Regions from separate parts of the Homo sapiens genome. Here regions 1 and 2 are each linked to region 3. Evidence: fine-mapped expression QTL. A gene starts in region 3. Each other region holds a variant in brackets. All regions are shown on one strand. Distances are between the middles of the regions. Region 1 has its middle 30 kb from the start of SNX9. Region 2 has its middle 56 kb from the start of SNX9. Region 3 holds the start of SNX9 (sorting nexin 9).

What was found. PIP is the estimated chance that this variant, and not a neighbour inherited with it, causes the effect.
Region 1: its variant is fine-mapped to the expression of SNX9 in whole blood (INTERVAL, PIP 0.98).
Region 2: its variant is fine-mapped to the expression of SNX9 in whole blood (TOPMed, PIP 0.93).

The regions. Positions count from the first base shown.
Region 1 is chr6:157,787,467-157,798,264 of GRCh38, reverse strand. No RefSeq gene overlaps it. Among named protein-coding and RNA genes, the nearest start is that of SNX9, 30 kb to the left of the region's middle. The variant A/T (reference allele first, on the strand shown) is at 5,262.
Region 2 is chr6:157,761,989-157,772,786 of GRCh38, reverse strand. No RefSeq gene overlaps it. Among named protein-coding and RNA genes, the nearest start is that of SNX9, 56 kb to the left of the region's middle. RefSeq lists enhancers at 8,186-8,235, 9,126-9,195, 8,768-9,967, 9,469-10,396 and a silencer at 8,726-8,835. The variant A/T (reference allele first, on the strand shown) is at 5,154.
Region 3 is chr6:157,817,894-157,828,691 of GRCh38, reverse strand. SNX9 (sorting nexin 9) reads right to left here and starts at 5,446. Exons shown (of 18, transcript NM_016224.5): 1 at 5,246-5,446. The coding sequence starts at 5,257. RefSeq lists an enhancer at 4,618-4,667 and a silencer at 5,318-5,637.

The DNA.
Region 1 (10,798 bases), 30 kb after region 3:
TTTGCAGGAATATCACAGAAATCATGGTGAGTTCGTCTCATTGCGCCCTCACAGGGGGTATAAAATTTCCATTTATTTCATTACAGATGATATTAACTTTGATCACTTGATTAGAGTGTTGTCTTCTAGGTTTTCTCCCCTTTTTTCTTTTGATGCTAGTAAGACTCTGGTAAGGAGGTACTTTGAAACCATGAAAATATTCCATCCCTCATTAAATGTTCACCCACTAGTTTTATTATCCACTGGTGTTTGCTGGTTGCATTAATAATTACTAGGTTGCCAAATACCAATTTTCTAATTCCATCATCCCTTGTACATTTATTAGTTAGCATTTCACTGTAAGAAAAGCTTTCTTTTCCCCACGCTTATTTATTGTAGCATCTCATTGCATCAGTATAGACTTCCGGATTCCTATTTTATTTAGTGGACTATCATCCCTTACTATAGTTACTTATTTTGATGCCAAGTTGTCCTGGATTTGTCCAGTGTGAGGCCCATCAAACTGGTTTCTATGAGCTTTTAACATGTTTCTGTCCTTCAATGAGCCTTTCTCTATTTTCTGGCACAAAAGATATTCCAGGCCCATCTTGTATTTTCCCTGCCCCAACCCTGGAATCAGTCATTTCCCCAAGAACCTTGGAATCCTTTTAGTAAAGAATGATATTTAGAAACCAAGGTCTAGACTCTAGGTGTGCACATTGTGAATGGGTATCATTGCTCTGAGGAAGAGTTAGACAATCGATCTATCTATTATTTAAATAAAAATAGAGCTATAGATGTATCTATCTACACACACACATACAACCACATATGTATCAGACATTTACATTTATTTTCATTTCTTTATCTCCATATGTCAAAGCATATGCTTTATATTATTACTATTGTGTATATTAAAAACTGAATTCATACCGATACTTCCAATTCCAAATCTAACACCACAGGGTTAATTCTAGTTTTTTTCTTTCCAGTACTCTATACTATGCTCCCAGACATGGATGACAGGGGGGCAGGAAGGAAGGATGCTTCCTAACAATTTAAATTCAATTTTTGTGTTATTTTAAATTATTTAACTTTAATTAGAAATTACTTGTGTATTTTACATTTACAGAGCACTTGCTGTGTGCCAGGTACTGTGGGCCTTTACATGCATCATCTCATTTAATTCTTGCAACCATTCTCTAAGGTACATAATATTATCCCTTTATCCATTTTACAAAGGAGGCAACTGAGGCTTACAGAGATTACACAGTAGGAGCACAGCTAGGACACTCCAATAATCATCTTTGATAGTAATTAAAATTTTTTTAAGTATTTATAATATATAATACCTTCTAGATATGTATTATGTGTATATCAGCAAACAGATTTTTATCTCTGTCCTTTGGGGTTATATTTTATTCTGGTGAGCAAGAAAAGAGCTGAGCTTATTGTGTACTCGCCTTTATGGAATGCAGCCATTTAATTAAATCCCTGAATTGTCATCAGTACCTAGAATAGTGCCTGTGTGTAATAGATACTCAACAAATAGTTTTTGCATAGATGGATGATCAATACATCTACGCAGCATGTAATGACAATGAAGTAAACAGGGTGCCCACCGAAACATGGTTCTCTTTTCCTTCATTGACATATAGGAGGCCACACTTCTTTGCCCCCTTGCAGTTAGGTGGGATCCTGTGACCAGTTCTGGCCAAAGGAAAGTGAGCAAAAGTGACTGTCGAGAAGCCCCAGTCTCTCTTGTCCTGCTGTGGCAAGTTCCAGATGGCGCAGCCACCAGATGGATCCTCTGGCAGCCTGGCTCCCCACCCAGTCTATTCCCCTCTCTTCCCCCACTGCCTTGCTGACCAACAGTAGAGTTTTTGTGAGAGATGAACTTTAATGCCACTGAGATTCTCAAGGTTAACTTGTACGTCGTAACCTGGCCTGTCCTGACTCACACCTCTCTTCTCTGGTCTGACAGATCCAATATAAATTTAAAAAAGCTATACTCCTTACTAATAGTCCAAACACCATTCCGTTGGCAGTTTAAGGAAATAACATGTGTGAGATTTATCCAAGAAACAGCATTGCGAGCATATTTATATTGAAGGAAGCACTGAAGAAGACAGGAACAATAATTAAGAAAAAAAAAAGATCACTTAAATCCATGGGTTAAAGGCATCCTGACAGACCTCGTTGGCTGTAATTTCATGTGGATCCTTCCTGGGAGTGACTTCAGATTCTGACTTCCTTTATTCCTAAAATGCCAATTCGTCAAGTCACACTTCCTCTTTAAATAAAATACTGATTTTGTTCGTAGTTTTAAATTTAAAATTTTTTACTTACAGGAAGATAAGAAGTATAACTTTTGTCCAGTAACTGGCTAGCTTTGCACCTCTACGTCAAAGATATTTTTAGTGTTATACCACCCCAGACGCTGTTCCAACATTGAAATTGTACTTAGGTTAAATTGGGAAGACTGTTCCCTTTGCCCAAATGTGCTTTTGGCATTATTCCTATGAAAGTTTATAACAAGTTTATGTGTAAAAGCAGAGGGAATAATATAATGAATTACTATAAAATTATCACTTTAATTTTACAATTGTTAATATTTCACCATGTTTCATCTATGTTCCCCTTTGCTGAAGTATTTTAAAACTAGCCCCAGACATCAGGACACTTAACCTTTAAATACATCACTGTACATCTCAAAAACCTAAGGATATTTTCTTATATAATCATAATGCTATCATCATACCTAACAAAATTAACAACATAATTCTTTTACAATATCTGATACCCTATCCACATTCAAGTTTTCTAAAATATCCCTAAGATATGTTTTAATTTTTAAGTTTTAAATTTTTGAGATGTAGTCTCTCTCTGTCGCCCAGGCTGGAGTGCAGTGGCGCAATCTTGGCTCACTGCAACCTCTGCCTCCTGGGTTCAAGCCATTCTCTTGCCTAAGCTTCTCGAGTAGCTGGGACTACAGGCACACTACACCATGCCTAGCTAATTTTTGTATTTTTAGTAGAGATGGGGTTTCACCATGTTGACCAGGCTGGTCACAAACTCCTGACCTCAAGCAATCCGCCCGCCTTGGCCTCCCAAAGTGCTGGGATTACAGGCATGAGCCACCGTGCCCCGCCTCAAGATGTGTTTTTATATTTCATTTTCATATTTGGTTTGATGGGACCTAAACTAGGTGCACATACTGCATATGATTGTTCAGTTTCTAGTCTCTGTTGATCAGTTTACTTTATTTTAAAATTCATCTTGATCTATTTCCTTTCAATTTTCTACTTTTTTTTTTTTTTTAAATTCTGCTCTTCCAAATCTTTTCCTTTTTTGGTGGAGGAAGTTTGAGCAGGACAATATTCTCACCTTGCATCTGGGGAAATCTAGTCTCTTTTTTTTAAGCATCTCATATTCCTGGTCTTTTAAAAAAAGACAATATAAATATAAGCTAAATACTAATTTTTAAAAGTAAGTCATTTAAAACATCTAGCTAATAGGAAGCTAGAGAATAAGTAGAGTTTTATGTTTTATGTATTTCATGTTTGCTAAGTTTATCTGGGTCAGAAAAAGAAACTCTCTTTTATTATAAATCTTTAGATGTAATGGCCTATCAGAAATAAGACTTCTCTTACTAATTCTTCAAGAAAATTTCCTAGTCAAAATAAATAAATAAAATATAAAGATGTTGTGTGTTCGTTTTTAGCAGTCTCTATGGACAAAACAATGTAGTAGTTCAAGAAAATATCATTAATATCAAGTGATTTAGGGAGTAAGAAGACTTGGCTTTAGCCCTGCCTTTACTGTGAACTAATGACTTGAATAAGTTCTGTAAGTTGTCTGAGCCTTAGCTTCTGTGTTAGTCCGTTTTCATGCTGCTAATAAAGACATACCTGAGACAGGGTAATTTATAAAGAAAAAGAGGTTTAATAGACTCACAGTTCCACGTGGCTGGGGAGGCCTCACAATCATGGCAGAAGGCGAAGAAGGAGCAAAGTCATGTCTTACATGGTGGCAGGCAAGAGAGCGTGTGCAGTGGAACTGCCCTTTATAAAACCATCAGGTCTTGTGAGACTTATTCACTATCATGAGAACAGCAGGGGAAAAACCCACCCCTATGACTCAATTACCTCCCACTGGGTCCCTCCCATGACACATAGGGATTATGGGAGCTACAATTCAAGATGAAATTTGGGTGAGGACACAGCCAAACCATATCAGCTTCTTCACGAGAAAGCTTAGCCTAGTTGACCAACAAGATATACTTTTAATATTCTAAAATTTCATAAAGCCAAATGTCTGCAAAATAAGAAAACCATTTTTGTCCCCCAACAAATATACCAGGTCTTAGGGTTTCACATGAGGCTGTTTTCAAAGCAGACCCCTTGGAGCCATGTGGTCATTTACCTGATGGGGCCACCCCTCAAAATATTTTTGTAAGTACTTTCAAATCAGGTTATAAGCCACACAAGAAAATAGGAACTACTGCTTGATGGTCATGTCTCCTCTTTTATTTCATAGGTATTTGTTGCAGACTTGCTAGGTGCATGAAGAATTGTGCAAGGTGCTGGGGTTGCTGAGGCAGGATGGGTGCAAGCATGAGCAAGACCAAGTCCTGCTTGCTAAGGAACTTAGCTTTTTGTAAAAGACCAGCATTCGCTAGCATCCTATTAATTAGATATTTTGAGTGAATTACTTTAGAAAATTAGTATTTAGCTTATATATATATTGTCTTTTTTTAAAAGACCAGGAATATGAGATGCTTAAAAGAAGATACTAGTTGGAGGGAACAAAAAAGATCTGGTTGGAGGGAAGAAGTTGGTACATACACAAAACAATGAAAGGGAATGAATAAAAACTTGGCGGGGGATGGGGAATATTTTTGGCATAGCATGAATGTCTCCAAAGCCAAGGTCCTTGGGTTTCAGAAATGGACCTCCTCAGCTGTGAAGACATTAACTTCTATTTTGAAGCCAATAAAATGCCTCCTACTTGGTATTTATCAAAAGTAATTCTAAGGCTGGGTGCGTGGGCTCACGCCTGTAATCCGAGCGCTTTGGGAGGCCGAGGCGGGTGGATCATCTGAGGTCAGGAGTTTGAGACCAGCCTGGCCAACGTGGTGAAACCCCGTCTCTACTCAAAAAACAAAAATTAGCTGACTGGGTGTGCTGGCACATGCCTGTAATCCCTGCTACTAGGGAGGCTGAAGCAGGAGAATTGCTTGAACCCGGGAGGTGGAGCTTACAGTGAGCTGAGATTGTGCC[A/T]CTGTACTTCAGTCTGAGCAACAGAACAAGACTGTCTCAAAACAAAAACAAAAACAACAACAACAACAGAAAAACCCAGTGATTCTGGTATCATCAGGCTGGCACGGGGTGGATATATGAACAATAGCTGGAAGTGAAAAAGTTCTGAGCATCCACTGGACAAGGTTGAAGCCAAAACAAACACACTAAATACTTTAAATAATTAACACATGCTCTTTTAAAACACTGAGCATTGAAGGGCTCTTAATAATATGAAGGACCAGGGGCTGGGGGAGAGGTGGGAGGCCAGCTGGGGAGAATGTTGGTCAAAGGATACAAAATCCAGCTAGGCAGGAGGATTAAGTTTAAGAGATCTATTGTAGAAAATGGTGCCTTTAGTTAATAAAAATATATTTTCAAAAATTGCTAAGAGAGTGGATTTTGTGTTTTCACCCCAAAATGGTAAGTATGTGAAGTAGTGCACATGTTAGTTTCATTTAGCCACTCTACATTGTATACATGTAGTAAAACAACATAGTGTACATGATAAAGATATATATTTTTGTCAATTAAAAAATAAAAAATCGGCTGGGCACAGTGGCTCATGCCTGTAATCCCAGCACTTTGGGAGGCCAAGGCGGGCAGATCACGAGGACGAGAGATCGAGATCATCCTGGCCAACATGGTGAAACGCCATCTCTACTAGAAATACAAAAATTAGCTGGGTGTGGTGGTGCGCGCCTGTAGTCCCAGCTACTTGGAGGCGGAGGCAGGAGAATCGCTTGAACCCGGGAGGCGGAGGTTGCAGTGAGCTTAGATGGCACCACTGCATTCCACATGGCAACAGAGTGAGACTCTGTATCAAAAAAAAAAGAAGGAAGGAAGGAAGGCAGGGAGGGAGGAAGGAAGGAAGGGATGGAGGGAAGGAGGGAGGGAGGGGTAAAATTAGAAAAATAAATTAATTAAGTAAAATAACTGAATTCAAAAGGACTGGATCCCACGGAAATCCAAAACAAAGAGACAAGCAACAATATGAAGGAGTTTTGCTTTTCTTGTGTTTCCAGATCACCTTAATTAAATGTTCCAGGGTTCAAGTGTTTTCAATGGGGTTAGCTTTCTGCTGGATTATTTTTTCTAAACCTCTTGTTAAATGATTCCTTCATAATCATACCAATAGGTATCCCTCATGTTGACTGGAAATTTTAATAATTAGTAACTTGTTGATGAGGTAATGAATCCAAGCTGAGAAAGGCGTAAGAGAAAAACAATCATTACCCCCGTGCAATGCAAGAGCTTGTCCTGCTGGAAATATCAAGTGTTGCCCTGATGTGGGCTAATTACCAATTGCTCTGGACTGACTTAACAGCCTGCCACATTTTTGTTGTAACACCTGCAGTTTGTGCCAAGGAGAAGAAAGGTGTCACATTGCCAAGTGCTAGAGAAGTATTTGTTGAGGAGGATGGGCACAGCTTTTCAAAAATACTCATAAGCAAAATCATGATTCTCATTTATTTATTCAAGATACATTTATTGAAAACCTACCAAGGACCAGGCATTGTCCTAGGTGCTATGGTTTATGGTTATTTCAGGCATTTTCAGCCAACTCAAACAGGAGACTGATTGGATAGTTGCAGAGGGGACTAATTGGCTTTCAAAGAAAGAGACAGTTTATTCTTTGCTTTGCTATTAGGAAAAATAACTTCCATTGTATGTACTAGACTACAAAACTTTCTTCTGAATGGAATAGACAATAGCAATAGAAGACTATCATCATTAATTTAGTCACTGAATTAATTTAACCTGCATATGCAGTTTGGGAGGTGAAAAATACATGATGTCAAAGTATTCAATGGCATAAGCTAGAACTGCAAGAATCTGACAGATGCTCACTCAAAAACCTTCTGATACAATCTGTTTATAAACAAAACTGAAACACCAGAAACAATCTTACTAAAAAACCCATAGTTACAGCCCTAAAATGCATCAGAGTGACTCCAACGAAATTTGTTCTCATCCAGTGGGTTCCCAAACCGTTCCAACAATGATGATCGAAACAGTTAGGAGCCAGACCACAGGATTTTAATGGATTCAGCTGTTTCAGCCTTTGAAGCACCTAATTCTGAAAGCTGCTGCTGCTACTTCTGTTTCCTGCTACTTAGGGAGAGAACAGAGAACCAGAAAGACAAAGGAGTTTCCTCCCAGAACCCTACACCCAACTTCTGGAAGACAACACAAGAGCAGAATGAGAGGGAGGGCAAAGCTGTGTGGGATGCAAGGACAATTGGCTGAGGTGGGCTGTGGTTGCAGAGATAAGGCCTGGTCATAGAGTCAAAGCTGAGCTCACAAGCAGTGCCAGGTCTCCTGTGTTATCCCAGAGCTTCCCAGTTGAATCCTCCCAAGGACCGAGTCCACCTCCTACCTTATCTATTACTGCCCTGGTTAGGTTGAGAATACAGAAAACAGGGCTGGGGGTGGGGGGAGTGGGGTTGTGTGCCAGTCTCTCAATCCTTTGTAAATGGAGGAAGAAAATAAGGACTGTCGGATATGATTTTTGTACCCCAGACCCTCCCTGTCAATCTCACAACAAACAGGCCACAAATGAACAAAATCTTGAGGAAATCACCTGCGCTGCCCTATCTTCTCTTCTTTGTGGTGCTCTTCCTATTTCAAAGTGCCCCCATCAGCTACCTTTCTTTACTCTTGTTATTAAATTAAAGGTTTTGATTTTAATGTGCTGGGTATTGGAAAGTCAGGCTGTGTTAGAGACTGCAGGTTTTACCTTGATACCTGTTTTTTCTCCTTACAGGAAATGGAATTCCCCCAGGGAAAACTCGGAACAAGACTACATCTCCCAGTTCCCCTTGCACTCCCTGTGGCCATGTGACTAGGTTCTAGCCAATGGTAAATAAGCGGCAAGGGCGTGGGAGTGCAGCATCTCTAGAGGGAGTGGATGCACCCGTCCTCCCTGCCTTCCTCCTTCCTGGCGACGGTGTGGAAAGTGGTCCTGATGGCTGGAACGCGAACACCAGCGTGGACCCAGAAATGGAAACCGCGTGTCGAAGTTGGTGAAGCAACAAGACAGAAGGAACCTGGGTCCCTGCGGATGGTGGAGCTGCCCTGGTCACTCAGACGTAACTGATGAGAGGGCCAAATGTACGCTTCTCTTGTTCAAGCCTTTGTTACTTTGGGTTTCTGTCATTCGGACTTAATCCTAAGCGATGTAAAAGCTGCCACTCGCTTTCAGTTAAAATAATAACTGAGACTGAGCGCTTATTCTGTGATTATTGAGGACTTTTAGGTTTCTTAACTCATTTAATACAACAACTCTATGAAGAAGTACTGTTATTTATCCCTATTTTGTGGATAAGGAAACTGAAGCACAATGATATTACATAACTTGCTTAAGGTCACACAGCTGATAAATGGCAGTCAGAACTTGAATCCAGGCAGTATAACTCAAAGTTTGTACAGTCTTCTCTTCTACAGTAGAGTTTGCCGTCTACAGCGGGATGGCCAAATCCAGCCTGCTGCCTCTTTTTGTAAATAAAGTTATATTGGAACACAGCACATTCATTCATGGATTGTCTATGGCTGCTTTCACCCTGTAATGGCAGAGTTGGGGTGTTTTAACAGAGACCATATGGCTCCTGAATCTATAATATCGACTAGCCATCCCTTTACAGAAGAAGTTTGCTGACCCTTGTTCCACAATATACTGCTTCTAAACCTGTTGTGGCAATATATAAATTTATATAAAAGGTGAACTAGGGGTGATTATTTTGGAAAATAGTTGACAAATCTTAAGTAAAAACAATTTTTTTTTTTTTTTTTGAGACGGAGTCTCGCTTTGTGGCCCAGGCCAGAGTGCAGTGGCGCTATCTCGGCTCACTGCAAGCTCCATCTCCTGGGTTCACGCCATTCTCCTACCTCAGCCTCCCGGGTAGCTGGGACTACAGGCGCCCGCCACCACGCCCCACTAATTTTTTGTATTTTTAGTAGAGATGGGGTTTCACCAAACAAAATTTTTGAGAGCCTCTTTTGTACGAGGTACATCATTAGGCCCTTTTCATAATTATTTTGTTTATTCTTTACAATTGGCCTATAAAGTAAATGTTCTTATCCCCATTTTGAGGATGAGGAAATTGAGACCCAGAGAAGTAAGTAAATTGCCCACAGTGATACAGCTATTAAATGCCCAAGTGAGAATTTGAACCCAGGATTTCTGATTCCAATCCTATAGCCTCCATCCACTATATCATGCCACCTAATTAAAAGCATTTAACATACAACTTAATTTACAGAAAAATGGGCTTTTCCAGGAAAACAAAGCACAGTTGTATGTTGTGAACCTTTCGACAAAACTTTATGTCGCAAAATTTAGTGAAGGATTATTTAAATCTGTATTATAAGGGATGATTCCACCACCCTATAATATTTAGTGGGTTTTGGTCTAACATTCCCCTACCTAGAAGTGCTGGGAAAACTAGTTCTAGAACATCTTTTTAGAATTTTGATTTTTCTGAGTTGTAAAAGAAGTTAACCGTCTTCAGAATTGTGCTTCAAGTATAAGAGATTTTGAATGAGAATAATGAAATATGGGAATCTTTCTAGACAAGCCAATGCAGACATAGTTCACTGTTGATGCCTTAGCTCAATGATTTATGATCCTGTAGCTGGACAGTGACTTTCATCTTCTAAGGTTCATAAACTGCTAAAAGAACCTCCAGGCTTTTTCCCTTGAAAAAAATTAATATCCATATTTAAATAGTTTTTCAGACCCTTGAAAGCTTATTGACAACATATGGGTGTCCCTAGACCCCCAAATTAAGAGCTTCTGATTTATCTCTAGTATCTTCTCTCTGTTATTACTAACAATATAACTTTGGACAAGTTACTTAACCTTGCTAATCATCAATTTCTTCATCTGTATAGTAGGAATAATAATATTCAAAGATTGTTATGAAGACTGAGATAGCCACACAAAGTGCTGAGTATGTACTTGTTGGATAATAAGCATTCGATAATATTAGCTCTGATTATTAGAGTTGGTTTATGTTTCCTAACTTTGTAATGTTCAAACAAAAGGCTCAATTCCAGTTGATGAAGATTCATTGAACACTGCTTATATCCAGCACTGTGCTGGGATTTGCAGGGGATATTAAGGTCTCATGAAAACACGGGTCATTCAGTTATGCTACAGAATTTATAGCTTAAGAATATGTAAGGAGTTGGTAATTTATAAAAATGATAATTAGCTATTAGTGAAATCTACTTTATTTTTGAATTCAAATATTTATACAAATTTAATTTATATCATATATTTATAATATTATAGAATATTTCCCATATTCTCAGAATTCGTAATGATGATATTAATGACCAATGTTGATGTAACCTATACAGTCTTGGGTTGGAAATTATGACATAATGATGCCCTGAGCTTTTCTGAGCTGCTGCTGCTTGGGAGTGTGTATTGGTCAGGGTTCTCCAGGAGACAGAAAAAATATATACGTACTATATATGTGTATGCATATACACACAAATACACACACACACAC
Region 2 (10,798 bases), 56 kb after region 3:
TGTGCCTTAACCTAGTTTTCTTAACCTCACACTTTCTTAACCTCACACTTCTGTATTTTCCTATCTCAGGGAAGGTCCCTGGACTAGTTTCCTGGGCTGCCATAACAAACTACCACAAAGCAGGTGGCTTTAAAACAGCAGAAATGTATTCTCCCCCAGTTCTGAAGGCTGGAAGTCCAAAACCAAGGCGGCGTTGTGGCCATGCTCTCCCCAGAGGCTCTGGGGAAGGATTCGTCCTCACCTCGTCTGTTTCAGGCGCTGCCAGCGGGCTGTGCTGGTCCTTAGCCTGCGGATGCATCACCCCACTCTCTGCCTCCCTTTTCACTTGGCCTTCATCCCTGTGTTTGGCCCCCATTTTCTTTTCTTCTAGGGATGCCAATCATTGGACCTAGGGCCCACTTGGGGTCTATTCCAGCAAGACTTCATCTTAATTCGATGATATCTGCAAAGGCCGGCCCTATTTTCAAATAAGGTCACAGGTACTGGGCATTAGGACTTGAACATATCTTTTGGGGGACACAGTCCTACCTGCTGGGAGTCCCACTGCCTCCTTCACCCCAGAAATCCTTGACCCATCCCTGTCCTCTCCTTCACACTCCACATCTAGGCTGTTTATCCTATTTTTAAAATAGCTTTCATGTTTTCTCTGTCCTCCACTCCACTGTCTTAGTTCCAGCCCTAATCAAGCTAGATGACCATGACAGCACCCCTACTCTTCCTCTTTGCCCTTTTGAGTCCCCCCAACCCATCCTTCAGCCAGCATCCTGGTTCTTAAAATTTGGCTGCCGGGCCGGGTGCAGTGCCTCACGCCGGTAATCCCAGAACTTTGGGAGGCCAAAGCAGGCGGATCACTTGAGGTCAGGAGTTCGAGACCAGCCTGGCCAACGTGGTGAAACCTCTCTCTACTAAAAATACAAAAATTAGCTGGGAATGGTGGTGGGTGCCTGTAATCCCAGCTACTCCAGTGGGTGAGGCAGGAGAATGGCTTGAGCCTGGGAGGCGGAGTTTGCAGTGAGCCGAGATGATGCCACTGTACTCCAGCCTGGGTGACAGAGTGAGACTCCATCTTAAAAAAAAAAAAAATTGCCTACCAGCCAGCCCACTCTGGATATGTCCCTGGCAGCTCCTCCTGCGTGCATCTTGGGCGACACTATCTCATTGACTCATTCTCCACCATCCTTTCCACCTCGATTCCTCTTCTCTTCTGAGAATCAAAACCAGTTCCTACCATCTCTGAACATTTAACTGCCTGTTAGCAGCTATACTATTTTTAAAAATACAAGTTATTGAATAATTACGACATATATATTATAAATGTAAAGTAGATATTACATCCATTTGTGTGTGGGGAAACTGAGGTTCCCGTGGGTTAAGCAACTTGCTGAAGAGGGAGCTGATGTTTGAACCTAAAACTCTATGGCTTTAAAGCTCTTCCTATTAACTGTATTACTAGGCTTCAGAAGATTTAGCCTTGTAAATATCTGGAAGAGCTTGCCAAGTTTCCTGTTCTTATAATTTTTAGTATTTTATAGACACTGTCTGCTGTAAGTGAATATAAAACACCTAAAGAAATTCATGACGATGATCCATACCTCAGTCATAAATGACCCATACCTCAGTCATAAATCCATACCTTAGTCATAAATGACTAAGTTATTCTTAGTCATTTATTTTCTTATTTCATAGTGAACTAATAACTATTTGGTTCAGAGCCTACAGGCCTATCATATTTTGCATAGCAATCCTGGTGAATTTATAGACAGTTGCCTGAATAATGAGCTTATTGTGTTACATCTTAAGTTTTGGTAAAGCCTTCTCTCTTTTTTTCTCCTTGAAATAAATATAAGCATAGGTATATTCACAAATTGTCTTTTAAACCTTTACAACAATAATTTTATTTTCAGTGCAAATTTTGTTTAGCATGAGACTCAGGCATCCTATGAAATTCTTAGCCAAATAAAATAATAAATCTTTTTTTTTTTTTTTGAGAAGGAGTCTCGCTCTGTCACCCAGGCTGGAGTACAGTGGCGCGATCTCGGCTCACTGCAAGCTCTGCCTCCCAGGTTCATGCCATTCTCCTGCCTCAGCCTCCCAAGTAGCTGGGACTTAAAGGCGCCTGCCACCATGTCTGGCTAATTTTTTGTATTATTATTATTTTTTTTTAGTAGAGACGGGGTTTCACCGTGTTAGCCAGGGTGGTCTCGATCTCCTGACCTCGTGATCTGCCCGCCTTGGCCTCCCAAAGTGCTGGGATTACAAGCGTGAGCCACCGCACCCGGCCAATAAATCATTTTTAAAAAGTATTTTCTGGCAAATAGCTTACCCATTTGGTGTTGGCTTGAACTTGTGGAATTTCTTTAGTTTGACTTATTAAAGTAAATGAAACTTGGGTGAGGAAAATTCCTGTTTTACTCAGGCAGCCAACTCAAAGCTCATGTTATTGAAATGCCCTCAGTCTCCTGTCTCCATGGCTGGCGAGCAGGAAGTCTTCCATGCGTGCACTGCTCTGATGGACTTTATCCACACACCATCCCTGACACACTCACAGACACCATCGGCCCTGAGCTGGGCGCTGTGAGCCTCCCTCACACTCCTGTCCTGCCTGATGGTATCCACAAAAAATCTGGAGGCCTTGGATGGAGTCCACGTACCATTAGCTGTGCGAAATTCTGCATAGATCTGTGGAAAACGTTCAGCCCTGGGCAGGATCAGCTACATAATTTGCAGACCTGGTGCAAAATGAGACTGCATGACCTCTTGTTCAAATATTACTAAGCATTTCAAGATGGTGACAACATTTACTCAAGCACTGAGCCCAACCATGCGCTGGCTCAGCTCACCTGCCCGTGAAGCCAGCCATGCCCTGGGGGCTGCTGTTCTGCTTTCAGACCCCTGGTGCTCTCCTTCTTCAACCTGTTATCTGGGACCTCATTTTCACCTGCATTTGTCATCGATTTCCAAGCACTGCTGGGTGTGTGGCCTAGATCCCTCCCCACAACACACCCAGTGCTTCCCCTTCCACTGCCTCTCCACATGGGCCTCCACCAAAAATCCTCCACACAGGCCTCCAGACCTGGCCCTTTCTGTCCCTTCCTTCCTTCCCTGACATCCTCAGCTCCAGCCAGGCCTTCTCCGGCCTTGGTGTGTCTACTGTGGCTTTCTCCCACGCTGCCCTCGGGAGGGATGCTCCTGGCCCCTGAGCCTCCTTACAGGTGACCCCCTCTGCCTGAATCGCCCTTCCTCTCTGTCTTCCCCTGGCTGACGCTTACTCAGCCTTCAGGTCTTGACTTCAGCACAACATCCCCTGTCCTCCAGGAGCTTTCCCTTCCTCCGCAGACCAGGAGAAATCCCCTGGCTGCCCACGCCCCAGCGTGCTCTTCCTGCTGGTACAGCTCAGTGTATTTCCTGTCCACGAAGATGGGGGTGCCTGCGCCTGCATCAGAGTAGAACTCTGCAAAAATTTGTTGATTGTTGGTCGGATCGATGCCAGGCTCTCTGGTGAATTCAGTGTCACACACAGAGAGAACTGCTGTCACTTAGCAATGAGGGAAATGCAGTGCCTGCTGTTGCTGCTGCTGTTGCTGCATGGGAGGCCCGAGGAGCATCCTTGGAGCTGGTGGCTCTGCTGAAAGACAGCATGGCTCATCTGAACAAGTACTGCTCACCAAAGTGTCCACTGCTTGTGTTGCTATTAAGTGTGTATTTATTTATTTATTTATTTATTTATTTATTTATTTATTTATTTTTGGAACGGAGTCTTGCTCTGTCGTCCAGGCTGGAGTGCAGTGGTACAATCTCAGCTCACTGCAACCTCTGCCTCCCAGGTTCAAGTGATTCTCCTGCTCCAGCCTCCCGAGTAGCTGGGATTACAGGCTCCTGCCACCACTGCAGGCTAATTTTTGTATTTTTGGTAGAGACGGGGTTTCCCCATGTTGGCCAGGCTGGTCTCAAACTCTTGACCTCAGGTGATCCGCCTGCTTCAGCCTCCCAAAGTGCTGGGATTACAGGCTTGAGCCACCGCGCCCGGCCAATTGTGTTTTTAAAAAGTGACTTCTGAGATGATATGTGCGTTTCAAAATTTTCTTCTCTGTTTTTCTGGTTTGCAACAATATGCGTATGGTACTTTGATGGTCATGAGAAACAACTTGTCCCCAGGAAATTTTACGTTAAAAAAAGTACCAGGCAAGGGCAATTTGCTGTTAGGGTTCATTTGAATTGCAAATGTATTTCCTCTGGCTGGAAAGGGGAAACATCTTTCCTGACCTGCTCTACACCCCACAGAAGAAAGGGTATGAAGAGGAAGTGAAGTATGGTGTCAACGGTGCCAGTTCATCTGCTTCTAAAAACATTTATGTAAAAGTAAGAAGACAAAACAGCCATCGCGCTAAACCCAGGGTGCTGCTGAGCCCCAGGGTGGTGTTGACTGCTGCTGAGGTCCTGACCTGGGAGGAGAGTGAGGGCCGGGCCTTCAACTCCAAGGCCATGGCTGTAAGAAACAATCATTTCCAACCCCACTTAATTATCTCTCCCCAGTCACTTTCTTTCCTTCTGTTATATTTGTCTTCTGCCATGTAGGTAAAGGAAGGAAAAACAAAATTTAAGAAAAGTCTATGGAGTAGGTTAGGCGGGGGTTAGCGTGGATGGTGAGACCGAAGGGTCAGAGGAACATGAGACAGGTCAGACTGGGGTGGCCAACTGTCCCAGTTCACCTGGGACTGAGGAAGTACCTGGGCCTGAGACTCTTGTTTTAAAACTGGGATGGTCCTGGACAAACCAGGAAGAGTAGATCCCCCTACTCCCTGATGGCCTGTGAGGCAGCAGACATGGCCCAGCTGTCCCCCCAGGAGCCTCCACTCTGAGGTCACATGCCCTGCACCTCCCCATTGCACCCTCCGAGGGCCTCACAGTATTACCATTTACCAAGGCAGTTCTGGGAATCAATTCTGGCCTGACATTGGGAACCCAAGCCATACTTTCATCTTCAACATGTCACTTTTTAAACAATTTTCTAGAATGAAATTACTTTAACTTTTGTTTTAAAATGATTTGTGATTAAAGAGAAAACAGGATCTTCATATGAACTGAGATTGTGGTACATTTGAACAGTCAAAATTGTTCCGTTTAACTTGCATTGAATGCAAATTTCAGTTCCT[A/T]AAAAACCCAAATAAAGTAATAAATGTTCAGGGAAGGAGGTTTGATTTATCTCTTTCCCAAAATGATGACCTAGTAGGAAAATTGCTGATTGAGGAAAAACACATGGAAGGTTCGCGATAATGCAGGGACAGACTTCATGGCTGCTAGAGGGTCGCCATGAAAATAATTTGTGTCGGGCCCCACTTTCCACATACTACCCTCAGTCTTTCTAATGACCCCATGAGGTAGGTGCTGCCATCATCCTGGCTCTACAGATGAGAAAACTCGGAGCAGTGAAGTGGCCTGAGGACAGGCGTCCAGGCCTCACTGTCACCAGCGTTGACAGCATTCCCATCATGGCTTTGCTTCATCTTTTCTTATTCAAAGACAGAGAAAAGAAAGTCTGTTTCTACTTCTGTATGGCCCTTGTGCTAGCTCAACCGCTCAGAGCAGGGGAGTTAAAGTGCCAGCAAGCGAAATACCTCCAGCTGAGTACCAAAGATGAGACAGTCAGAGGCAGCTTCATATTGAAGGCAGATCCTCTGAGTATGTCTTTATTGGGGAACTGACATTTATAGATGACAAAGAGCTTTCACATTCATTAGGTCAAGGAGGAGAAGCAGCGCTAGTAACAGTTGAAGGAGTAATTAGTAATAGTAACAATAAAAGTACCTTTCATTTAGTACTTGTCACATACTGGGTACATTTACCTATATATATTTCTAATTTTCAAAACAACCCAATGAGGAAACTGAGACCCTGAACGTGGCTTTATCCCAAGGCTAACCCCAATGTCCAAGCATTTTGCACTTTATCATATTCACATTTTCAAAAAAGTTTCTCTCATTTTACAGTTGAGGAAACAAAGATTTATTGGGGGTACAGGTTTCAGTGATTACACATCCTTAGAATCAATGGGCCAGATTTCACACCCAAGTGTCCAGAAGCCCCTCATACAGAACTCAGAGTCAGTGCCTGAGAGAAGCCACAAGGCTTGTCCAATCAGCTGGCATCCCGAGCCCCACAGAAGGATGGGATTCCAAGATAGTAGTTAGGAATCTTTTGGTTCTATGGGGTACAATCATCCAGAGTTAAGCAAACAAGAAAAATGTAATACCTGAGAAGTGTCCAGTAGAAGCAGGACTGGGCCTCCGCAGAGCTTGTGGAAGGGCAGGACTGAAGTCTGAGAAGCTTTCAGGGCTCTGTCTCTCGTTGCTGTAGGCCAACTTCCACGCACCTCAGTGCAAGGTGGGGAGCACGGAACATGGTCTGGGGAGCACCAAGTTACACATTTTGAGTCCAGCAATAGGAAAGATTTCTTTGTTCCATTTTATATTCCAGGGGAAGCGCCAGTGAGTGGCTAAGTCTGGGTAAGGTCGCCATCCTGGTCCACAATATTATAGACAGGAGGCAGGTGACCTGTGACAAGTTCATCCCTTTGAAATGGGGGACCAGAGTTACCAGAGAGCTGGGAATCATTGTGAGTGGACGGAGGACTCAGTAGGTGTCCATTGTTGTGTCCAGGTGTCTGAATTCAAAACAAGTTAAAATGAAGCATCATACTCACACCCAGACAAAGTTAAGCAGGGACTAAGTTAGTGACAAGATAGTTCACCAACTATTTATTAAAATCTTCTGGAAAATATGTGTGTGCTGTAAATATTGTCTTGATGACAATGAGCTGTTTTTAAAAGATTTTTTTTAAGGATAATTTGGTGGGGAAACGTGCTCCCAGACAACAATGCTCATGGACCCAAGACCTTTTAGAAGATTTTTGGTGCAAAGGAGTCTGCACGGAGAGGCTTTCCTGACTCATACCCTACTTGTTTCCAAAGCTCCCCTGTGAATAAATATTACAGCAGGAGGGTCAGGATGGAACATTAGCAGATGTGAACATTTTGGCTCTTGAGGGTGACACTGCTGAATCTATGCCAGGTCCTCTCTCTCTGGAAAATTACTAAACTACGCTCAAATGATAAAACAAAACAAATACATTTCAGGCGGGGCGCGGTGGCCTACGCCTGTAATCCCAGCACTTTGGGAGGCCGAGGCGGGCGGATCACGAGGTCAGGAGATCGAGACCATCCTGGCTAACATGGTGAAACCCCGTCTCTACTAAAAATACAAAAAATTAGCCAGGCGTGGTGGCGGGCGCCTGTAGTCCCAGCTACTTGGGAGGCTGAGGCAGGAGAATGGCGTGAACCTGGGAGGCGGAGCTTGCAGTGAGCCGAGATCGCGCCACTGCACTCCAGCCTGGGCGACAGAGCGAGACTCCGTCTCAGAAAACAAACAAACAAACAAAAAAAAACAAATATATTTCAAAATGAACACCCGAAGCCCCCACAGTCATAGCTGTGTGCCTCCATGCACCTCTGCAATGTGGTGGGAGCGGGAATATCCATGCCCAAATACTTGCCCATAAATATCTCCCATCTAACTCTTTGTGGAGGAGATCAGATCCGAGTGGAAGGGCTCGGTGTCCCTGAGGGTAACGCCCATTGTCTAAGCAAGAGGAGTCTCTTTCTAACCCTAATAGGCTTGTTAACTCTTGGTGTTCTTCCTGTTCCTTTTTAGATAATCTATTAGGTTGGCACAAAAGTAATTGCAATCTTTGCCATTAAAAGTAATGGTAAAAACCGCAGTTACTTTTGCACCAAAATAATACATCACAGGTTTATACTCAGCCTTTGTTACTATTTTAGGTTGAATTATTTCCGTGCAAACCCTCAGAGCACAGGGATCTGTAATTATACTTTGCAAGAGATGTTACGTGCTACCAGCAAATTTTCCAGCTCAGTGATGCAAGGCAGGAGCTGTACATCTTCTCACATGTGGTTATTCATTCCATACAGTACTGAGAAAGAGCCTTAGTCACATTTGGACTCCCTAAGGAAGTGTCAGGCCACATCACTGCAGCCACATTCCTGCACAGAGCTTGCCTCAACCTCGCTCCTCCAGGCGAGCTCCATGCCGGCCACGTGATGGCCCCCGCCAGTGTTGAGAAGTGATTCATCGTCAGCTCCAGGGGAAAAACAGACTGTGTAGGAAGGTTCCATATGACAAAAACATCCGGATTTTTTTTCTTTCTGCCTTCTACTGGGCAATTCAGACCTTGTTATCATACAATTGAGGTGGAAATGTGACGTAATTAAACTGATTTATGAAAGTCACATACAGAAACCAGAGTCATTTTTTAGAGCCCCAGTGTGGTTAAAGTTTACTTCCTCTGTACATTTATAGCAAAGGCTTTTGAACATGGTTGAGGGCAGAGAGCCAGTTTCGGGTAGATTGGGAGAAGGTCTATTTGCTGGTTACTGCTGCTTCAATTTATATTTCCCCCTCAGTTTTACCAAGGAAAAGGCCTTAATGGACTGAATTCAATGTGAAGCTTGTGTGATTCTCTATCTGTGGCCACTTCAATGTGAACGCCAATGACCATGAGCCGGGTAATGACTTGGAAATATACTAGACAGAGCACAGCCATGGGAAATACCACGGAAGACTATGTTAGCTCCAGAATAACATCATTAAAACTAGCTTAATTTAGTACAGCATCTGGATCAGAAATAGTCCTAAACATGCATACACAAAGCAAGTATACATTTGCATGATACGTACACAGAGCTTTAAAAAGCAACCTGGATATAGTGTGTCAGTTTTCAGAAAGGGACCAAGATGAGATTAATGAACCTTGACACCTGCTTTGCTCTCTTCCACTGCCGTAGAAATCCTCTCTGCTGAGAGTCTGGCATACTTCATAGATACAGTATTTGGAGAAGCAGCAAGGCTGGATGGTTTGTGTAACACACTGGAAACGTCATGAGGCTGATTCTAGATTTGCCAGTCATCAACTGGGGGCACTTGGCCACGTTTTCTAACTCACAAAGGTTTTCCAGGATAACATTTCATGCTACCTCCCCTTGGTGTTTTGAGGAATCGTCAATAGGACAGACAGGCAAGCACATGAGAAACATAAGCTGCTAGTTGGCACAGGTGTGTTGGGCTGCTGGAATCAGGCAGGTGTATGGAGCCGGGTGACTCATGGAGGAGGAGGGGTTCCACCTGGAAGGGACACTCCCTGGTCTCTCTCCACATAGCTAATGTGAGTCACCACATTCCTGGCTCCCTGCCTGACTTGCTTCCGGGTCAACCACGGAACCCCAGGGCCACCTGGGGTTGGGCCTGCTCCAGCTGTTCCCTTCGGAGCCTTGCCCTGCTTGCTTTGCACTTGTTAGAAGAGGGAGCAGGTACTTCCCCGCAGGGACCTGTGTCTGCCTTCAGCTGTCTAAATTCCATGGAGAAGGCCTGGAGATCCATGGGGAAAACTCCTTTCATTCTGGGATGGTCTGGCCTGGAAGCCCGGAGCAGCTTCCTCAACCCCGCCGCCCTCCCCTTTTCCCTGCCTTGTACCCAAGGAGCCCCAGCCCCTACTCCACATCACAGAGGGCAGAGGTGGAGCCCACCTGGGACGGTGGCCACCTATACCCTCATCACCAGGCCTACATCAGCACCCTCTGGGCGTGACTTCCCTCACTTTCTAGGTAATGAAGAAAAAGATCGTGTTTTACATTGAGACGTATAATCTGTGTAGCTTGGAAGAGGAGAATATGCAACCCCCAAATATGCATAAGGATTGTTGAGCTGAAGGCCATTAAAAAGCAGATGCAGGAGAGCTCTCTGCCCTCGCTCTATTTGCCTAAAGCGGGGCACAAAGACAAAAGGTGTCCTGTCCCCCTTCCACCAGGGAGAACAAAGGTTAACCACGGAAGACAATTTCAAACCCTGTCAGCCTGGAGATGGTACTGGAGGAACCCACATGGGCAAGCCTCACCGAGCAGCCTTCCTCTGCCAGTTGTTTGCTTCTCCCCAAGTTGCTGCCCCCTAGAGACTCGAAATCCTTTTCTGCTTTTATTTTTAAAATATTTTAAAAAATACTTCCCCCAACCCCCACTGCATCCTCCCTAGCCACAGCGGGCTCCGGGACACTCTTCAGAGTCCTTTTCCTTTTCCTTTTCCTTGTCACTTCTCTAAATATTAGCTGTTCTTTGTTGAAGATACTGTCTAAGCTGGAATTCAAAGGCATCTCTCCCTGGTATCTTCCATGTGCATATTAAATACACATGATACTAAACTTCTGTTTGTTCCATGTGCATATTAAATATACATGATACTAAACTTCTTTTTGTTTTTCTCCTGTTAACCTGTCTTTTGTTACAGGGGTACATTCCAACTAAGAATTTATGAGAGCCGAAGAAAAAATTATCTTTCCTCCCCTACAGCAATGAACCAGAAATAGGCCACAGGGCCATCTGCTTTGGAAGCTTTGGTGGGATTCATAGGCTTTCTACCACCTTCCTTCATAGAAGGAACTGCACGCTTGAAAACTGCAACGAACCCAGTGAAAAGAGAAGAGGCTTCTGGCTACAATCAGATCTGCCAGTTGGCAGGTGATGGTGGGGGCACTGCCCCCAGAGCGGCTTCTAGACCTACTCTGCCCCTCCCGGCCCCACAGGGCACCCTGAGCTTGTACTCTGCCCCTCCCGGCCCCACAGGGCACCCTGAGCTTGTGAGAGGCACGGCCCCACCTGTGACCTCTCCCATCTTCTGGCCGTGCTCCCTGCGGTGCGCCCCACTCCAGAGAGCTCCAGCCCGGCTCCCTTCCTGC
Region 3 (10,798 bases):
TGAAACCCCATCTCTACAAAAAATACAAAAAGTAGCTGGGCATGGTGGTGCACACCTGTAGTCCCAGCTACTTGGGAGACTGAGGTGGAAGGATCACCTGAGCCAGGGAAGTCGAGACTGCCGTGAGCTGTGTTCGTGCCACTGCACTCCAGCCTGGATGACAAAGTGAGACCCTGTCTCCAAAAAAAAAATAATAATAATCATAATCATAAAAACTTAACATCTAAAAACAAAGTACCTAGGGAAGGACAAGGGAGAACAGCATTCCAGAAAAGAAACAGCAGTACTGCAAAGCTACAAAGTTTTAAGTGGACAATTAAAGTAAAACTATAATTTAATTTTCAGATGGTCAATATAAAAACAAGGCACAGTAGAAAAACTGCAACATTTTTATGCTTTCTAATCTATTCCTTCTTTAATGAGACTTGTTCATCTTTCTACTGTCACAGAACTTATCTTTGACTATACAAATACTGCACACTCTACTTAAGACACATAGAAAATACTACTGTTATACAAAGTTAAATGGTTAGCATTTTCCAAACATTTTAAAAGCCATAAAAATCAACTTTAATCCTTAAGACCTGTTAGAAAGATATTTCTATTCTAGTCGTCAAATAAAGAAGTTTCTGCTCTGGAGGGGCTACAAAGTATGCCTTCTGAATTGTTCTCACTAATCTATGCATGGAATAAACAAGTCTTAAGTAATTCATTTATTCCCTACCATTATTTTTAACATTCCATACCCACTTAATTTAACCAGACAAGCTGTGTAACACATGTGTATAACTTTAGGTATTGGAACCGAAGAGTTAAAAAAAAAAAAAAAGCATCAGGAACTCCTAGAATCTTGTTATAGTTAGCCTAAAGGTGACTATGTAAGCACAAAAGGATCCAAATTAGTGACTGAAGGTTAACTTTGACGTAGAAATTACAGCTAAATTATATAGATATGGATTAACCTCCACTAACAATTTTCTTCATGTCCCCTTTGACAGACACTGAAAAAAAATTCTTCATTTCTTTTCCAGAACTTGATCTTTTAAATAAAACAGGATGACTGACAATGTATTATATATTTATATATCTCATATATATATAAACTATAATATAATATATATTTATATATTATATAAACTATAATATAATATATGTTTATATATTATATAAACTATATGTTTATATATTATATAAACTATAAGTTTATATATTATATAAACTATAAGTTTATATATTATATAAACTATAATATATGTTTATATATTATATAAACTATAATATATGTTTATATATTATATAAACTATAATATATGTTTATATATTATATAAACTATAATATATGTTTATATATTATATAAACTATAATATATGTTTATATATTATATAAACTATAATATATGTTTATATATTATATAAACTATAATATATGTTTATATATTATATAAACTATAATATATGTTTATATATTATATAAACTATAATATATGTTTATATATTATATAAACTATAATATATGTTTATATATTATATAAACTATAATATATATGTATATATTATATAAACTATAATATATATGTATATATTATATAAACTATAATATATGTTTATATATTATATAAACTATAATATATGTTTATATATTATATAAACTATAATATATATGTATATATTATATAAACTATAATATATATGTATATATTATATAAACTATAATATATATGTATATATTATATAAACTATAATATATTTTATATATTATATAAACTATAATATATTTTATATATTATATAAACTATAATATATATTTATATATTATATAAACTATAATATATATTTATATATAAAATATAATATATATATAAAATATAATATATATTTATATATAAAATATAATATATATATATAATATAATATATTTATATATCATATATATATAAAACCTATAATATAAATAGGTTATATTTTGGCTGGGTCGAAATATAACCTTTGGAGGCTTCCAATAAAGGTCAAGACTAAAATGCTCTGCAGCTTTTGTATTAATATTTGTAAAACAAGACTTGATTGCACTGAGTGAGTGTATACACTTAAACTGAATGCAGCACTCTACTGAGTAAGGAGTAGAAATAGAAAATAGATAATCCCCTTAAAATGTGCAGTTACTGATTAACTTTCCTTTTTTTTTTTTTTTTCTTGAGATGGAGTCTCACTCTGTCACCCAGGCTGGAGTGCAGTGGCGCAAAATCGGCTCACTGCAAGTTCTGCCTCCCGGGTTCACGCTATTCTCCTGCCTCAGCCTCCCGAGTAGCTGGGACTACAGGCGCCCGCCACCACGCCCAGCTAATTTTTTTTGTATTTTTAGTATAGATGGAGTTTCACCGTGTTAGCCAGGATGGTCTCGATCTCCCGACCTCGTGATCCGCCCGCCTCGGCCTCCCAAAGTGCTAGGATTACAGGCGTGAGACGGCGCCCGACCCTGATTAACTTTCTTTAGCAGTGAAGGACTGTCAAACTAAAGTTCTTCTTCTAAAAGATAATTTCCTTTTTTATTGTAAAATATAGTAGTGGAGTTTTTAAAAATCCCAATAGTTCAGTGATAACCACATCCTTAATACGTAAGAACAAACAAGAAAATTGTATCTGAAGATACTATAGCCAAGTCTCTGATAAATTCAAAGGGAAATCGACATCCCTTAAAATATCCAGATACTGAATTTACTTTTCATCAGTTAATACTTATAGCAACAGCCTGAGTGCCACTGGAGCCTACATTTTTATTAAAAGTTAGTCATTACTACTAAGCACATTCTCCCCACCCCTTGAAGAAGACAAAGAAAAAACACAACTACTCAGGTGTGGGGAAGGAGTGTGCATATGGGGGAAGGGAGGAAAGCACCAACTTGACTCTCTGGGAACAATTAAAAAATGAGACTTTGGTTTGACACAAGAATCACCAGCATGTCAGAAAACAAAGGAAGGGTCTTCTTTTAATAACTGCTTCGTTGCTCTTCTTTTTCTTAAAATGGAAATGGTTTGTCACAATGTAAACATGGAAATGAGCACCATGTGGAACAGTGATTAGGCAGCCGAAAGAAACTAACAGAACTACTGGAATTTGCCTTTGGAGTGGTGTAGATAACGAAGTAGGAAGTCCTTACGCATGCTTTAAGGCTCGTGTTTAATCAAAGACACATGCAATTCGAGATTAATATACAAGAACCACTTTTCGATTTTTTGGAAAAAAATTAAGTTCAGGATTAACTATGAAATAAAAATTTCACTATATATACCTGCACTAGTTGCTAAACTGCATTCCACTTAAAGGACAGTACAGATAACATGCCTCAGTAGACCAGAGTGTAAAAACACACTGACCACCACTAGACAGATCTCTATGTCATAAACCGTCTTCTCTTTTTTCAAACGGAGTCTCGTCTTTTCTTTTTTCAAACGGAGTCTCGCTCTGTCGCCCAGGCTGGAGTGCAGTGGCGCGATCTCGGATCACTGCAACCTCCGCCTCCCGGGTTCAAGCGATTCTCCTGCCTCAGCCTCCAGAGCAGCTGGGGCTACAGGCGCGCGCCACCACGCCCAGCTAATTTCTGTATTTTTAGTAGAGACAGGGTTTCACCATATTGGCCAGGCTTGTCTCGAGCTCCCGACCTCAGGTGAACCACCCACCGCGGCCTCCCAAAGTGCTGGAATTACAGGTGGGAGTGAGCCACCGCGCCCGGCCTATAAACCGCTTTTAAGGTTGCAAGATGAGCATGTACTAGGATGTGTAACTGGTAATTTCTGGAATGTCTGGCAACAAACCTCAAAATCAAATTTCCTTAGAAATCCTTGGCCTAAGTTTTATTTTTAAAAAGGTCAACACAAAATTAATACGTTAAAAAGGTGGCAAGTTCTATCGCATTAATAAAACCAAAGCACAGCACAGGCAATAATATATTAACAAGAAGGTAATTATTTCAGTAACAGCAGCAACAGGTTCCCTGGAGGAGAATCCCCATTTCTCTACAAACGCTGCACCTAGATGGATTCAGAGCACAAAATTTACCACAGCACAACATCTAGCAGACCGAAGTCAAGCAATGCTGATCTTTCAAAGAGATTTCACATTTCTTACCATTTTCTACCTTAACACTCCACAAAAAAAGCAAACACCTATCGAAAAATAAAAAATAACGTTTCTAGCAACCCAAAAGTAGCTCAGAGATCTCAAAAACAAATAGACAAAGGGGTGCTGATGCTAACAAAGTGACATTACAAAAACTAAGTGCAAAAGTAAACCCACTCCTCACAGTGTATCACAGATCAGTTAATGGCTCAGGTATAGAGCCTCCTCCCCCAGGTCCTCCCTTCCGTGACCGTGACTTCCCCAGTGGCTATTCTACATCAAGTAACTACTGAAAACGCCCAAGGAAAAGGAGCGGGGGAGGGTGGCTTTTGAAAATTCAGGTAGCCAAGAGTGACTGCTAATTTCATAAACAATAACGTAAAACAAGCAAACCACCGCTCCTAGCCAATGACGAAGCAGGAGTCAAAGTTCCACCACGTAATTCGGGCCTGGGCCTTTTTTCAGGCAAACACGTAATCGAAAGCACAGTCATTTCCCTCTTGATATTTTATTCATGCCGGCAATGCCATTCACAATGAAAAGGTAGCAAAACAAAAGAAAAAAATAACAGCAGCGAAGGCAAAGGGGCGCGGGGCGTCCCAGCCTCGGTCCCTCCCCGGCCGCGAGCCCCCGCAGGCCGGGACGGGAAGCGCCGCGTCCTCTCCGCCGAGGTCTCGACCCCCACCCGCCCCGCGGGGGCGAGGGTCCCCCAGGCGGCAGCGGGAGGGGACGTGGGGGCGGCGGGGACGCCGGACGCCACAGAGCGCCAGTCGCCTCGGGGGCCTCCCCGGGCTGCGGGAAGTTTCCGTCCCGCGGCCCCTCCCGGCGAGCCCGCCGCAGCCCACGCTCAGGTGCAAACTTCCCAAACCTCGCTGCGCCCGGGGTCCCAACCCGCGCCCAGACCCGACGCCGTCCCCCGGTGCGATCCTGGTGGTCTGTCTGCACTGCCCGCCGCACCCATGCCCAGAAGGGACTGGCTGGGCCGCGGACCCGCCCGGGGACTCCACCGAGGAAGCGGAGTGGCCCCTCGACCACCCCTGGCCCCGACCCTCCCCGCGGCCCCGGCCCCGACCCTCTCCGCGCCGCCCCGGGCCTGAGCGACCGGCCCGGCCTGCGCCGCGCGCCCCTCACCTTGGTGGCCATGGCGGGCGGGTCCCCCGGCCCGGGACGGCCGGCTCGTCTCCCGCGCCGCGGATGGTGATTCTGAGCCGCGCAGGCAAAGGCAAGGGCGAGGGCGGCGGCTCCGGCTGGGCCCCGGCGCGGCGGCCGCTCCTCCGCCTCGGCCCCGAGTCTCGACGCTCAGGCCCAGCCGCTGGGCGCTCGGCTACTCCCGCGCCGCACGCTCCTGCAGTTCCTGAAAGTCCCCGGCTGCGCGGCCCCCGCCCCTGTCGGCCGAGCCTCCCATTTACCGCGGCGCGCGCGACGCCCGCCGGAAGCGCGCCCTGGGCCCTCGGCCGCGGCCCGGCCTCCTCGCCTCCTGGCCGCCCCCGCGCCGCGCCGCCGCCCCGGGCAGTCACCGCCGCCGCCGCCGCCGCCGCCCCCGGGCGCCCTTGGTCGAGGCTGGGAGCGGCGTCCCGCGCAGCGGCGGGGTCCGGACGGGCGCCCCAGGCCATGGCCCGCAACCCTGCGTGGCCGCCCCAGGGGAAGCGATCCGCGGCCCACAGAGCCGCTCGGGGTAGCCGAACCCCGACTCCGGTTCACGCTCGGCCGGCGCCGCACGCCGTGGCTCGGCGCTTTCCGTGCATGAGGCGGGAGGGGGCGGCAGGAACTCTCGACGCCCCGGGCAGACAGGAGCCCCGCAACCCCGCTGTCTTTGCCCCACGCCTGGGGTGTTGCGGGGTCGCCGTGCCCTTGGCCGAGTACCCTGAGTACCACATAAACAGCTGGGAAGGAGCGGAGCGATGGCTTCCTGGGCCTCTTCCTCCTGCCCGGAGGCTCCCTCAGGCCGGGGTCCTGGCTTGAAGCCCCTGGGACGGGACGGTGGGGGGTTTCGTTCTGTGACGCCCCGTTAACCTCATTCTGGAATCTTGATAAGCTTAAAAATACCGGAGGGCCCGAGAGGTTTGGGGGACAACAGGCTCTCTGAAGTGGAAACGAGGTCTCTAAAATTTTCCATCTTTCTGTCAGTGTTTCTTTCCAGAGTTGGAGATATATATATGGGTGTTATGAATAAACGAATGACTTGAATTGAGCAGCAAGATTTTTCACTCAAGGACAAAACACGACTGGAAGATGTGTCTTAATTGGCATACTAGTGGAGTGCTTTTTTATTATTATGAGGGATATATTTGTAAGAAGAGACAACTATCAAATGTAAATCTCTGGTGTTTAATGTCAAGTTTGTGTCTTCTTAAATACATTCTATTTGACCTGAGATTTCACTAGTTATATTCAATAATGGGGTTTAAAATAGATACGGTATTGCAGAATTTTCTGTGAATTTTTGTGTTTGTTGAGCTCATGGTTAAGCTATAGTCATCATAATATGCATAAATAGTTGTCTTTCTCCGTAAAAAAAAATATTGGGAGGCCAACATTCATTGACGGCCTGCTTGCTGTATACTAGGCTTCCACATCCCCATCTCATTTAATCCTTATAAGAAACATTTGAGAAACTCATTATTGTCCACTGTTTACAAAGAAGAGCGACTCAGGGATCACTTAAATAACTTGCCCATTTGGTAATACTTATTCAAATCGAAAATGACCGTAGCCTTGGACCCAGCAGCCCTCCTGGGAATTTATCCTGTCAAACACTTGTACAAGTGTTCAAAGATGTTCATCAAAGATTGTTCTGTAATAACTCCAACCAGAAAGCAACCTATGTGTTTGTTAACAGGACTGTTTCAGTAAATAAGATACATCCATTCAAACAAAAATACTAGGAAGCCCGTAAGAAAATGATAATATTCTAAGAGGTGTTAAGAAAGATAAAAAGAACATTATGTATGGTACATTTATGTAAAAAAAAAAAAAAAAAGGAAATATGTGACACATTCCTAGAAAATTTCTGAGAAAGATTCGCCAGATCCTGTTGTCAGAGTTTTTGACCATGTGTATATATGACTTCATTTAAAAACAGCAGTTATATTTTAATAAACAATGGAAGAAATAACTTGGCTAAGAGCACACACTAGTATGTGGAAAAGCCAGGATTTGAACTCAGGCAATGTCATAAGTAATGAGTTTTCCATATTCTTTTAAATGTGAAGGCTGGGTACAGCTCTCTCTGCAGCCGTTCAACAATGCATCCCTTGATAGGAAGGTGCAAAGTTAGGGGCACACCTGTGAAGACAGGCCTTTCCACATGCTCATCTGGCAAATCCTATGCAAATAGTCATCCTGGGCACCCAGCACCATGAAAGCAAGAAGACTAGAGACTTCAAGCTTTTCCCACCAGAACAATTTCATAACCCTGGTTTTATTTTTTAGAAGTAATGGTGGAGGGCTAAGGTGGAAGGATTGCTTAAGCCCAGGTGTTCAACACCAGCCTGGGCAACATAGTGAGACCTCATTTCTAGAAGTTTTTTGTTGTTGTTGTTGTTTTAAAAAGAGCAAGACTGTGAAAAACAAATGAAAAAGTACATAAACAGAGATAAACATGGCCGGGCGCTGTGGCTCACGCCTGTAATCCCAGCACTTTGGGAGGCTGCGGCGGGCGGGTCACGAGGTGAAGAGATCGAAACCATCCTGGCCAACATGGTGAAACCCCGTCTCTACTAAAAATACAAAAATTAGCTGGGCATGGTGGCACGCGCCTGTAGTCCCAGCTACTCAGGAGGCTGAGGCAGGAGAATCACTTGAACCCGGAAGGCGGAGGTTGCAGTGGGCCGAGATCGAGCCACTGCACTCCAGCCTGGGCAAGACTCCGACTCAAAAAAAAAAAAAAAAAAAAAGAGATAAACATGTGCACTTTCACAATAAGCCACACCGAAGGGATCTTGAACATAACTAAAATCTTTTTCACATTTTTAGTAATGAATTGGGTAGTATATCTCCAGTAAATACTGCTAAACTTAGGAGTTTTATTTTTATATACGTCAGTCAAAATCAACATTACTTCATGAATGTTATAGAGGAGACCCACTTTCATAGAATATATTTGTATATAGAGAGAGAGACTGGGTCTTGTTCTGTCACCCAGGCTGGAGTGCAGTGGCCCAATCTCGGCTCACTGCAGCCTCCGCCTCCCAGGTTCAAGTGATTCTCCTGCCTCAGCCTCCGCAGTAGCTGGGATTACGGGCACCTGCCACCATGCCTGGCTAAGTTTTTTTTTATTTTTTATTTTTTATTTTTAGTAGAGACAGGGTTTTGCCACGTTGGCCAGGCTGGTCTCAAACTCCTTATCCTAAGTGATCCGTCTGCCTCAGCCTCCCAAAGTGCTGGGATTACAGTCGTGAGCCACTGCACCCGGTGGTGGCGTTTGTCTTCTGCTCCCACTTGATCAACCATGCATATCTCTCTTCTGTCCACCTCCGTCCTTTGAGCGAGCTTCCTTAGAGTTGATTCTCTACGCAGGCCTGCCTTTAGAACCCAGAACCCAGAACCCTGGGCCATGCTAAGTTCAGATTTTCTTCTACAGCATGAACTTCCATTACTCCAGGGGTGAGAACACAATTAGTTAAGCAATTGGATTTGCATTTGCAGACTGCGTTTGGTTATTACTAGATTGCACTTTCAAAAGAAAAAGACCTGGAGGCAGAGCAACAGAGCCACTCTGTTTAGGCTTTGTACTCTAGCTGCTTTTTTTTTTTTTTTTTTTGAATCATGCCACAGGAGGTAAAGTGATTAGGATTCACAGGAAGCTTCGTCCAGCCACACAGCTGGGGGGACAGGAAAATAATGACCACCACCTCTTCCCTGCGTTTGTTCAGTATGGCCAGGTGTTTTTATTCAAAATTAGATTCTCCTTTGGTTTTTAAGAGCTCAGAGCCCAACTAAATGCTTGGTCAACTAATGGGAAACTAGCATGGGAAAGTGCAACTATGGGAACTAATGTGGAACGGAGTGAAAATGTGTGATGGTCACCTAATGTAAGGATCGGAGGATGAGAATAATGTGTAACAATACAGAGTCAGCCTGGGTCTGGCACAAGGGGATACCTCCTCTCACTTTAGGGCATGAATTTAATGAGGTTAAAGAAAACCTTGGGGTGACCTTGAAAATAAACGTGGAAAGGAGTGCAGCTGGTGCCATTCCAATCCTAATAAACGTATGACGTCCTCACCTTGGACTGGATGCTGTTACAGGTGAGGGAGACAAAAGTCCCTGCTCTCTTAGAACTTAACAATCTGTAGAGGGTGGGGGAAGTCAATAAACTACAAATAAATGTCTAATGTGCCAGGTGCTTTTATAAGTGCTCTGAAGAATCTTTATAGGAATAAAGAGAAGCAGGAGAGGTTTTTTCCTATAAGGTTTCCCCTTGGCATTAGACTAGCTGAATGTATGTATGAAAAGTGTATGGTTTTAAAATTATGTTTGTTTTAGTTGGTTAGCTGATTGGTTGGTTTTCATTTTTGTTCCATTTTGACTAAGTCACATTTCTTTCTCCATCGTCTGGGAGACACAGAGCCGTAAACAGTAACGGGACATAGTGTCCAGAACTAGAAATTGAGCAGAAATCTGACTGCTAGGACCTGAGCAGTCCAGGAAGGGACAGTTGGCATGGGCAGAGAGAGACTGGAGGCTAGGGAGGCTGCATGGATGGCAGAGGTGGCAGCAGCAGGCGGTGTTAGGCTGGAACAGGAACCGTTTGCTCAAGGTTCTATACTAGACTGTTTGCTGAGTTTGGGTAGTTCCGACTCCCAGAAGGACTGAGCTGTGAGGTGAGGGCAGCAAGAGAAGATTGGCTCACCAGTTGGCTTCCCAAATGAAGTCCCAGCCTGTAGGATCCCTGGTGTCTCATGAAACTTTGCCCTAGGATATTGTTTTAATTCTTTGACCTGTTAAGGACAGGCTGGCGTGAGTCCTTGGAGACGTACTGGCATTCAGTGATTGGGCACAAAGAAGTAACAGTGGATATAGGACATTTTGCTAGTTCATGTGTCATTGCTCAAGTTACAAACTGTGATGGTTAAAACTGAGTGTCAACTTGATTGGATCGAAAGATGCAAAGTATTGATTCTGGGTGTGTCTGTGAGCCTGTTGACGAAGGAGATTAATATTTGAGTCACTGGGTTGGGGAAGGCAGACCCACCCTTAATCTGGGTGGACACCATCTAATCAGCTGCCAGCACAGCTAGAATATAAAGCAGGCAGAAAAACGTGAAAAGAATAGACTGGCCTAGCCTCCCAGCCTACATCTTTCTCCTGTGTTGGATGCTTCCTGCCTTTGAACATCAGACTTCAAGTTCTTCAGTTTTGGGACTCAGACTGGCTCTCCTAGCTCCTCAGCTTGCAGGTGGCCTATTGTGCGACCTTGTGATCATGTGTGTTAATACTTAAAAAACTCATATATATATGTATATATATATATGTGTGTGTGTGTGTGTGTGTGTTTGTGTATATATCCTATTAGTTCTGTCCCCTCTAGAGAACCCTGACTAATACACAAACTATAGAGAGTTCTTTTTTTTTTTTTTTTTTTTTTTGAGACAGGGTCTCACTTTGTTGCCCAGGCTACAAACCAGTGATGCAATCACAGCTCACTGCAACCTTGACCTCCAGGGCTCAAGTGCTATTTAT